Linked DNA regions of Homo sapiens. The gene in region 1 interacts genetically with each later gene. Each region holds a gene or a part of one and is shown on either strand. Other genes may lie near its edges.

Region 1 (3,792 bases):
TGAACCTGTAATCCCAGCTACTCCAGAGACTGAGGCAGGAGAATCGCTTGAACCCAGGAGGTGGAGGTTGCAGTAAGCCGAGATCACGCCACTGCACTCCAGCCTGGGGTGACAGAGCAAGATTCCGTCTAAAAAAAAAAAAGTGTTATTTCTTAGTAAAATAGTTCAATCTGCTTTTTCTTTTCTGTTTTTCTTTTTCCGCTGAGTTCTGTCCGCAGAAACCGTTCTCTGGAACAGTGCAGATTGCAGATTACGTTTACTACCTCCGCCATGTCCCGCCCTTCAGATGTTTGAAGATGACTCTTAGATTCCAGTCCCCCACCAGTTCAAATTAGTCATTGGTGATTAGTCACATTACTTTAATGACTCATTGAGCTAAAACTATGAGGTAAAACCATTAGCTAAAGCTTTTCAGAGAGGTAAAAGGCAGACATCTTACCGATTTAATGAGACTCCCAGCATTCTGGGCTCGACACATGGAGCTTAGATGCTAGCGGTGGGAGTAGAAAGGAAGGGACCATTATAAGCCATGTCAGGATGCAAATGTTTTTAAAAACACCTTGGTGTCATACTGGATGTGCTGCTGTAGGAGTTAGGGAACAGTGAAAACACAGCTGAGGGTGAGTGTAAGTTTTGAGATGAGGAGAGTAATTGATAAAAGTAGGGGAGGCACCACTAGTTGCTAGGGCACTGCCCTGCCTGCTACTCTAAGAAGGGTTCGGGTAAAACTTGCCTATGGCTGGCTCTGATTTGCTGTATGTTGTGATGAGGCCCTGCCTAGCTAAAACCAGTAGTGATCAGCTCATAATAGTTTCCAGGGAAGCCTTGCTGATCACATTTCGTAATCTCTATCTTAATATCCATATTTTTGAGTTTGTTGGCTTTTTGTTTTAGCTGAAAGTGTTTTTAAAGTACGTTTTACAGAAATCAGCTCAGCTCTTAATTCTCACTAATGACACTTCCTTGCCTTTTGAATGTTGACCGCATTCTTCTTAAAATAGAAAAGAAAGGAGTTTTTAGCCATCCTTGGTGATTGTAACTTACTAGGGACCATTTGGAATTAGTAAGCCTTTCTACTCACTCCCAAACATCATCTTAATCTCCTCACTTTTATAACAGAAGAACCCAGGTTCCAAAATGAACAGGACTCAAGCTGTTTGCCTAGAACCTCACAATTAAATGACTCTTCTGAAATGGATCCCTCAACACAGAGTAAGTTGATAAGCAAGAAAATGTTATTCTGCCATTTTAAATTTCACAATATTTAAGCAAAATTGTGGCTTAAATTATATTTATAGCATGTGGACGCCATTTTCCCAGGGCACTGATAATGGAAATCCTAAAAGGGAGGCAGCAAGATTCTCTCAGATTCCTCAGTGGGAGAACTGGGTGCAGACCAAATTCCAAGTAAAGAAAATGTGCTGAATCCACTAAAGCCACTCCAGTTCTTGAGCACCAGCACTGCTGCCCAAAAACATAGTTGGAGGTTCTAACAGAAGTCTCTAACTAGGTTGATAATATGAAATTCATAACTATTTTGACATCCTTGTGAAAAAAAATCTCAGCGTTGTTTTTCAAAGCTATTGCATAGTTGAATTTTCTTGACTCTGTTCATTTGGGCTGGGCTCCCTCCAACAACCATTGAAAACATGTGTCTGCCCTGGGCACTCCGATGGAATTCTGGGCCCCAGCAGCAGTAGAATGGCCAAAGGCAAATGGCTTCATGCTGATGAGCTGACTTTTGATCCCTGGACGTGGTTCATTGGAGGGTTTGGGGTTTTTTAGAAGGGACAGGGTAGAAACATCTTACAGAAATGTAATCACAGCATTAGGCCATCCATAAAGAAGCTAACAATCTTCCCAGTAAAGTATATTATTTATTTTTAAAAGGGAGGAGGAGAAAAGACACTCTGTTAAACTTACTTTCAACTATTTTTTTTCAATAAAATTGCCATATAGATGAAGCAGTATTTAACAAGATCTTTTGACTTCTTTTGGAAGAACAAACTTTTATACAATGTCCCAAAAAGACGAGCTTTATAAGAAATATGCCTAATACCAAGTCATGAGATTCCAGTATTGTGTAAAATATTTTTGCTAACTCACATTTTTATATGCATCTATAAATTCTGTGCCAGAATATGAATTAAACCAAAAATCATTCAAGAGTCAGATGAAGTATGAGAGATTCTCAGCTACTCTCTATTCTGACATATCAAATGGTTATTTGGCAGCAAAATACAAAAGCATGAAAGTTGTATTTCTTTGGGAGGAAAAACAGTTTTTCAGAAATTGAAGCTGACTGACTATTTGAATATGTAACTAAATTTCAGAGAAGTATATTTTTAAGGGCTTTTAAAAAAAATTTCAGTGTTCACTAGCCCCTCTAAATCAGTAACGCTCTTACACTTGGACATGTTGTAGTATTTTAATCTTGATTCTGGACCTTCCTGATATTAGCCAATATTAAAAAGCATTTGATTTACTTATTTTTATTTATTTATTGGAAAGGTAATCATGGTGTATATTTCACAGTTTTATGACTTGGAATGCCTTTTCTCATTACTATTAAGCATCATTGTGAGGAAGCTTACAGTTGCACAAACTCAAATTCTCTCTTAAATTAACAAGCTTTGTTTCTAACTTAAGATTGTTTGTATCCCAAGTATTTCAAAGCAGAGAAGTTCTCTGTTAGCATTCATTCAGTCCAACAAATAATTATTTGGCTTGTAAATGGAACCACCTAGGGCCAGGTTATATGTAAAATTTAGGTTTTAGAATTGCATTTCATTATTTGTTTTTACAACACATTTATCTTTAAAATAAATGCTGTATCACCGCTAACATCAGAAAACTCAGCTTTTCTAAATTTTAAATTTCGTTTTCAAGTTTCTTTAAATAGAAGAGCAGTAGAATGGGACACCACGGGACAGAATCTTATTAAGAAAGTGAGAAATCTTCGCCAGAGACTCACTGCCCGGGCTCGTCACAGATGTCAAACCCCTCATCTTTTGGCTGCATAGAATGCATGTCACCTTGAGACGGTCGAGAGAGAGACCTATTTTGCAATCAGTGACATTGATTTTTAGATTATTTATTTAAAATTCCTATAAAGATCAGCCCTTTGTACAGAAAAATGTGTCTATAAAAATTATGTGTTATTTAATTCTGATACTTTTTGGCTTGTAAATGGCTTCTTGAACTTTTTACAATAAAAATGTTTTAGAAACTGTTAAAGCTGTGTTAAGCTTTCAGGTTGCAGGGACCAGCATAAACCTCAGTAACTTTAGTTGATAAAGGTTTATCTTAAAGATGAATAGAGAAATAAAGAACAGGAAACCATCTCAACAGCTCTATAGCCTGGACTGAGGGAGAACTCAGCAGCAGGTGGAGAGCGCCAGCAGCGTGGAGTGGCCTATATCACCATCTTCCTGCCCACCCCCGCCTCTGCCAGCGGGACCCCCTCTTTGTCAGGGACCCCACCGGACTTGTAACATCTCATCTCTGCCCAGCTCCTTCTGCCCTCTGCCTGCTTCTTCTGGCAGCACCGACTGCTCTTCCTCCCTCCCTCCACTTCCTAGCTCCAGAGTGGGGCTGCTTGTGACTTCCTGAACCTTACTCTCTAAAAGGAGGGTAGAAATACTTGATATGACGATTCAGTAAGATCAGGCAGGCCAGACGTGGTGGCTCACACCTGTAATCCCAGCACTTTGGGAGGCTGCGGTGGGTGGATCACTTGAGGTCAGGAGTTCGAGACCAGCCTGGCCAACATGGTGAAACCCTTTCTCTACT
Region 2 (4,545 bases), on another chromosome or scaffold:
AAATCTTTTAATTCCTCAAACCAGACATCCTTGTTTCTGACTCAGGTCTTTCCTTTTACTTTTGTCCCTACCTGGGATAATCTGCCTCCAAATGTTCACATGACAGCCTCTTTCTCAGCACTCAGATCACTGCTTACACATCATCTCTTTGAGAAGCTTCTCCTGACCACTGTATCGAAAATAGTACCCTGACAATCTCTCCCCAACAAAGACCATTTTCATTCTCTCTTTAATCTCTTGAGCCTTCTTTATTTTCTATATGAACTTAACTCTATCTGAAATTACATTTGTTCCTCTACTTATCTCCTATATCTCCCACTAAATACAACTCCACGAGGGGACGGACTTTGTTTGGGTCACAGCCATATCCTTAAGTAATCAGAATAGCTCTACATCATGGTAGCCACTTAATATATTTGGTAAGTTAAAAAAAAAAAAAGAATCTAATTGATTTGAAGGACTTCTAACTGGAAGAAATTAGGAAAAAATCTTACATATTTATTGCTTATTGGTCTCTTCAAAAAAGCATCTCTAGAAATATGGTCCGCTGTTCTTGCCACATCTTCCAAAAATCGATAATCTAAAAATTTCAAAACAGAAGAATAAACAAGTGACATATACCAATGGCCAGGAAGCCTCAATTTGCTATGCATAAAGTGGCTTACCACTTAGGAGATTCATTTCAGTAAACTGTTGTATTGAAATGTATGCAGTTTTATCTCGAACTCCATTACATGTCAGTTCTGCTTTGTGTTTCTTTACACAGGGCAAACTGAAAAGACAAAGGGGAAGTACTTTTATATTTTAGGGTAAGAAAGGTACAGATACAGGTTAAAAGGTAGGAAGTTACATGTATACCTGCAGGAATATCGCATACAACGTGGACATCTGTACTTTGCTTCTTCTGTACCACAAGTCTCACACCTACAAAAGCCCACATGTAACATTAAATTATCAAATATTAATTGTATTTATTTATAAACTTAGAATTCCCAATCAATTTATAAACTCAGTGACAAGTAACTGATAAAATATTTGATAGCTGTTGAACATCATTTGAAAATTCTTCTCTATGAAACCTTCCCAAAACAACTACATTTCCAATGTTGTTAGTGATATGTAACTCAGGAAAATGTATTAAAATTTTTAAAACCCATCTCGCTTTTGACTTCTTTTTCTACTATAATCAGGGAATGAGATTATTCACTGATATTTTAACTTGTGATTCCTGGAAATGTGGTAATGATTGTATGTGTGTGTATCCAGAAGTCCAATTCATGAGCTATGTTTAGATATTTTTAAAGCACACACCAGACAAAGAATATAAGGCCAAGTGAAATTTAGAGAGTAGTAGTAGCACCCTTTTTCCTGAACTCCACGCCTAATCTAGAATGAGCATCGAAATAATCTAGAAATGCCATGTAACCCATCATCTGTCCTCAACTGCTCTTCTATGCTCCTGGGATACTGACAACCAAACTACAGTTACTTCTATTTAGCCCACTGTGTTCTAGACGGGAATATTCTCAAGAATCTGACTACTCTTATTTCCTTTGTCACATGATCCACACACTAAGGAAATTCAATCAAAAGCAATAAATATTCACAGCACCCATGAAGAAGCTTGATAATTGAGGTCAAGTGTATTTTTGCCTAGTTTTAACTTAATCTACTTTGTCATTGTTAGTTTTATTAGACTTTCTCATCTCTATTCTCTCTCAAAGGAATACCGAGTAAAGAGCATATTAAGTCAAGCCAGATCCAGTTCCAACTGATCTTTTGGTCCCCAGAATTTCCACTTTCCTAACTTGACCATTACCCATTGGACACTACTAATTTCATGTATTTTCACTGAATTTGTTGTGTTGTCATGTACAACACCCTCCACTTCCCAACCCACCCCCGCGAACGCCGTCTGACTCCAGAAACCCAAACTTGTGCTCATTTTTCATTATTCCACCTTCTCCTGATAGTGTGGTTTCCTTCACTCTAGACATGAGGACTCCACAGCTTTATTCCCCTAAATGGAATCCCCCATGCCCTACCTTGACATGGCCAGTTTCCGCTTGCAGCCCACCGGGTGATTTATCGGAGGCTCTTCTTTCACCTTTGTATCATCCACGATTTCTTTCTTCAGGAAATCCTTCTCTTCTTTTACACACTCTCCATGCATCAATTCCTCTTTTATGCATTGACCAACAAACTTCTCCTCCTGTTTTATCTCCAAGTTATCCTTCTCTTCCTTCACTTCTGACCAGTCCATTACCTCTTCCTTTACCTTCTCTTCCTTTACCTCTGGTTCACCCACCTTCGCTTCTTTTACCACTAAACTACTATCCGTCTCCTGCTTCACCTCCAATACGCCTGCGTTCTCATCCTTCACCTCAGGCCTATCCTCCACCTCCTGTTCTACCCACTGGCCAGCCAACCTGCCTTCTGTACCTGGCCAGTCTATAATTTCCTGCTTCACTACCGTTAGGTCCATCGGTATTTCCTCTGGCCTTTGTCCACTTCCTTCCTCTCCATCCCCTATCTCCTTTATCCCTGTCAGCCCTGTCCCCTCCTCTCCGCCGCCGAACTCCTCCGCCCCTGCTAAGTCCCTTACTCCCTCCCTGCCAGGCTCTGGACTTAGCCGCACCCCCTCAGCTACGCTGTGGAGACCTCCCCCAGACTTCCCTTCATTTTCAGCAGCAAACTCCATCAACTCACGATCCTTGGCCTCTGCTGCCACTCTATCCTTCAATGTGGCTGCTGCACACCAATAGGAGGAATTACCGGTCGGAATACCTACGGCGGCCCACGTGTGGAGCCAAGCAGCCACAAACCCGGAATAGCCTGCTTGACGCGACTGCTCGAATCGCCGTAAAGCTACGCTTTTGCGCCTCGCCCCTTCACGACTTGTAGAGCTCTTTACGGCTCTGCGGAGGCCCTGCCGGATTCTCTGGGCGAACAAGCGTAACTGCGTGACTTGCCCGCTGGGGTTCTCGTCTCCTTCCTGGTTTCCACCACCCTCTTCCCTTAGAGAAGCCTCCTGGGCCACTCCCTGGGCCACCCTCCACGCCCTGCTGGGTGTAAAGAGTGTAGGAGACCGGCAGAGGGAGAGAAGCGAAACCCTTACACTCTGGAAGTGGGAAAACCCACCCTAATCTGTGTTAACCATTAAATCCAATCTTGCATGAAAATGGAGGACACACCTGATGTTATTAGGCCTTTCCAAGCTTTAGTTTCTTAAAGCTATAAACTAGGGACCATGGTATTATTAATATAAATCTCCCAGTGTCATTGCAAAGATTATATGAGATCATGCATGGAAATCAACTAGCAGTGACGGACACAAACTCGATATATAACTGGGAATCCTGATGGGCTTCAAACCGCCTGGTTTCCACCACCCCCTTCCCTTAGGGAAGCCTCCTGGGCCACACCCTAGGCCACCCTCCACGCCCTACTGGGTGTAAACAGTGGAGGAGACCGGCAGAGGGAGAGAAGCGAAACCCTTACACTCTGGAAATGGGAAAACCCACCCTTATCTGTGTTAACCATTAAATCCAATCTTGTATGAAAAAGGACACACCTGATGTTACACCTTTGCAAGCTTTAGTTTCTTGAAGCTATAAACTAGGGAGCATGGTATTATTAATATAAATCTCCCAGTGTCATTGCGAAGATAATATGAGATCATGCATAGGAATCAACTGTCAGTGACAGACACAAACTCAGTGTATAACTGGGAATCATGATGGGTTTCAAGTAGGAAAGAGGGCATTAATTTTTCTTTCCATTCTTTCTAAGTAACAGCCTGCGTCAGGCTATTCCCCATTCCCAGCATTCTGCAGGATTCTCTCAGAGAACATCATAAATATATTAGGCGAAAGTGCCTAATGCCCGGTATTGCTGAATAACATTGCATTGTATGAATGTGGCACGTTTTTTCATGCATGTACCAGTTGGTGGGCATTTGGCTTGTTTCCAGTTTGGGCTATTACGAATAATTCTGCTTCCACATTCATATGCAAGTCTTTGTGTGGACATGTTTACATTTCCCGTTAAGTAAATAACTAGGAGTGGAATTGCTGGGCCATATAAATTTATGTTAATTTTTAAAGAAATGCCCAAACTGTTTTCCAAAGTAGCTATACCATTTTACATTCCTACTGGCTGAGGGTTCCTATTTCTCTACATCCCGGCCAATTCTTAGTATTATCAGTTATTTGATTATAGATGTGTAGGGGTACGTCATTGAGAATTTACATTTCTTTAATGACTAATGATGTTGAACATCTTTTCATCTGCCAACTGGCCATTTGGATATTTTCTTTAATGAAATGTTTATTCAGATCTTTTGCCCATTTTTAATTGACGTCTTTTATTATCAAATTGTAGTAGTTCTTCATATATTATGGATATAGGTTTGTGGTAGACAAGCACCAGTATGTTCCCCAGTGATTCTCCACCCCCACAGTGTTCAGACCAATGTGTAGACTGCTCCTGCATCATCCCAGGATTGGTCTGTGTCACTGATAGCATACAGCAGAAGTAATACGT

What was found.
Region 2: changes in TBC1D31 (region 1) and ZNHIT6 together harm fitness less than expected from each alone (positive genetic interaction), as found in Homo sapiens cells (one large-scale study listed by BioGRID).

Annotation. Positions count from the first base shown.
Region 1 is NC_000008.11:123,148,917-123,152,708, forward strand, and holds the end of TBC1D31 (TBC1 domain family member 31), read left to right. Parts: intron 1-1,119; coding exon 1,120-1,212; intron 1,213-2,889; coding exon 2,890-3,023; 3' UTR 3,024-3,237; downstream 3,238-3,792. UniProt on the Homo sapiens protein: Molecular adapter which is involved in cilium biogenesis. Part of a functional complex including OFD1 a centriolar protein involved in cilium assembly.
Region 2 is NC_000001.11:85,705,584-85,710,128, forward strand, and holds the start of ZNHIT6 (box C/D snoRNA protein 1), read right to left. Parts: upstream 2,851-4,545; 5' UTR 2,702-2,850; coding exon 2,046-2,701; intron 925-2,045; coding exon 859-924; intron 773-858; coding exon 666-772; intron 581-665; coding exon 495-580; intron 1-494. UniProt on the Homo sapiens protein: Required for box C/D snoRNAs accumulation involved in snoRNA processing, snoRNA transport to the nucleolus and ribosome biogenesis.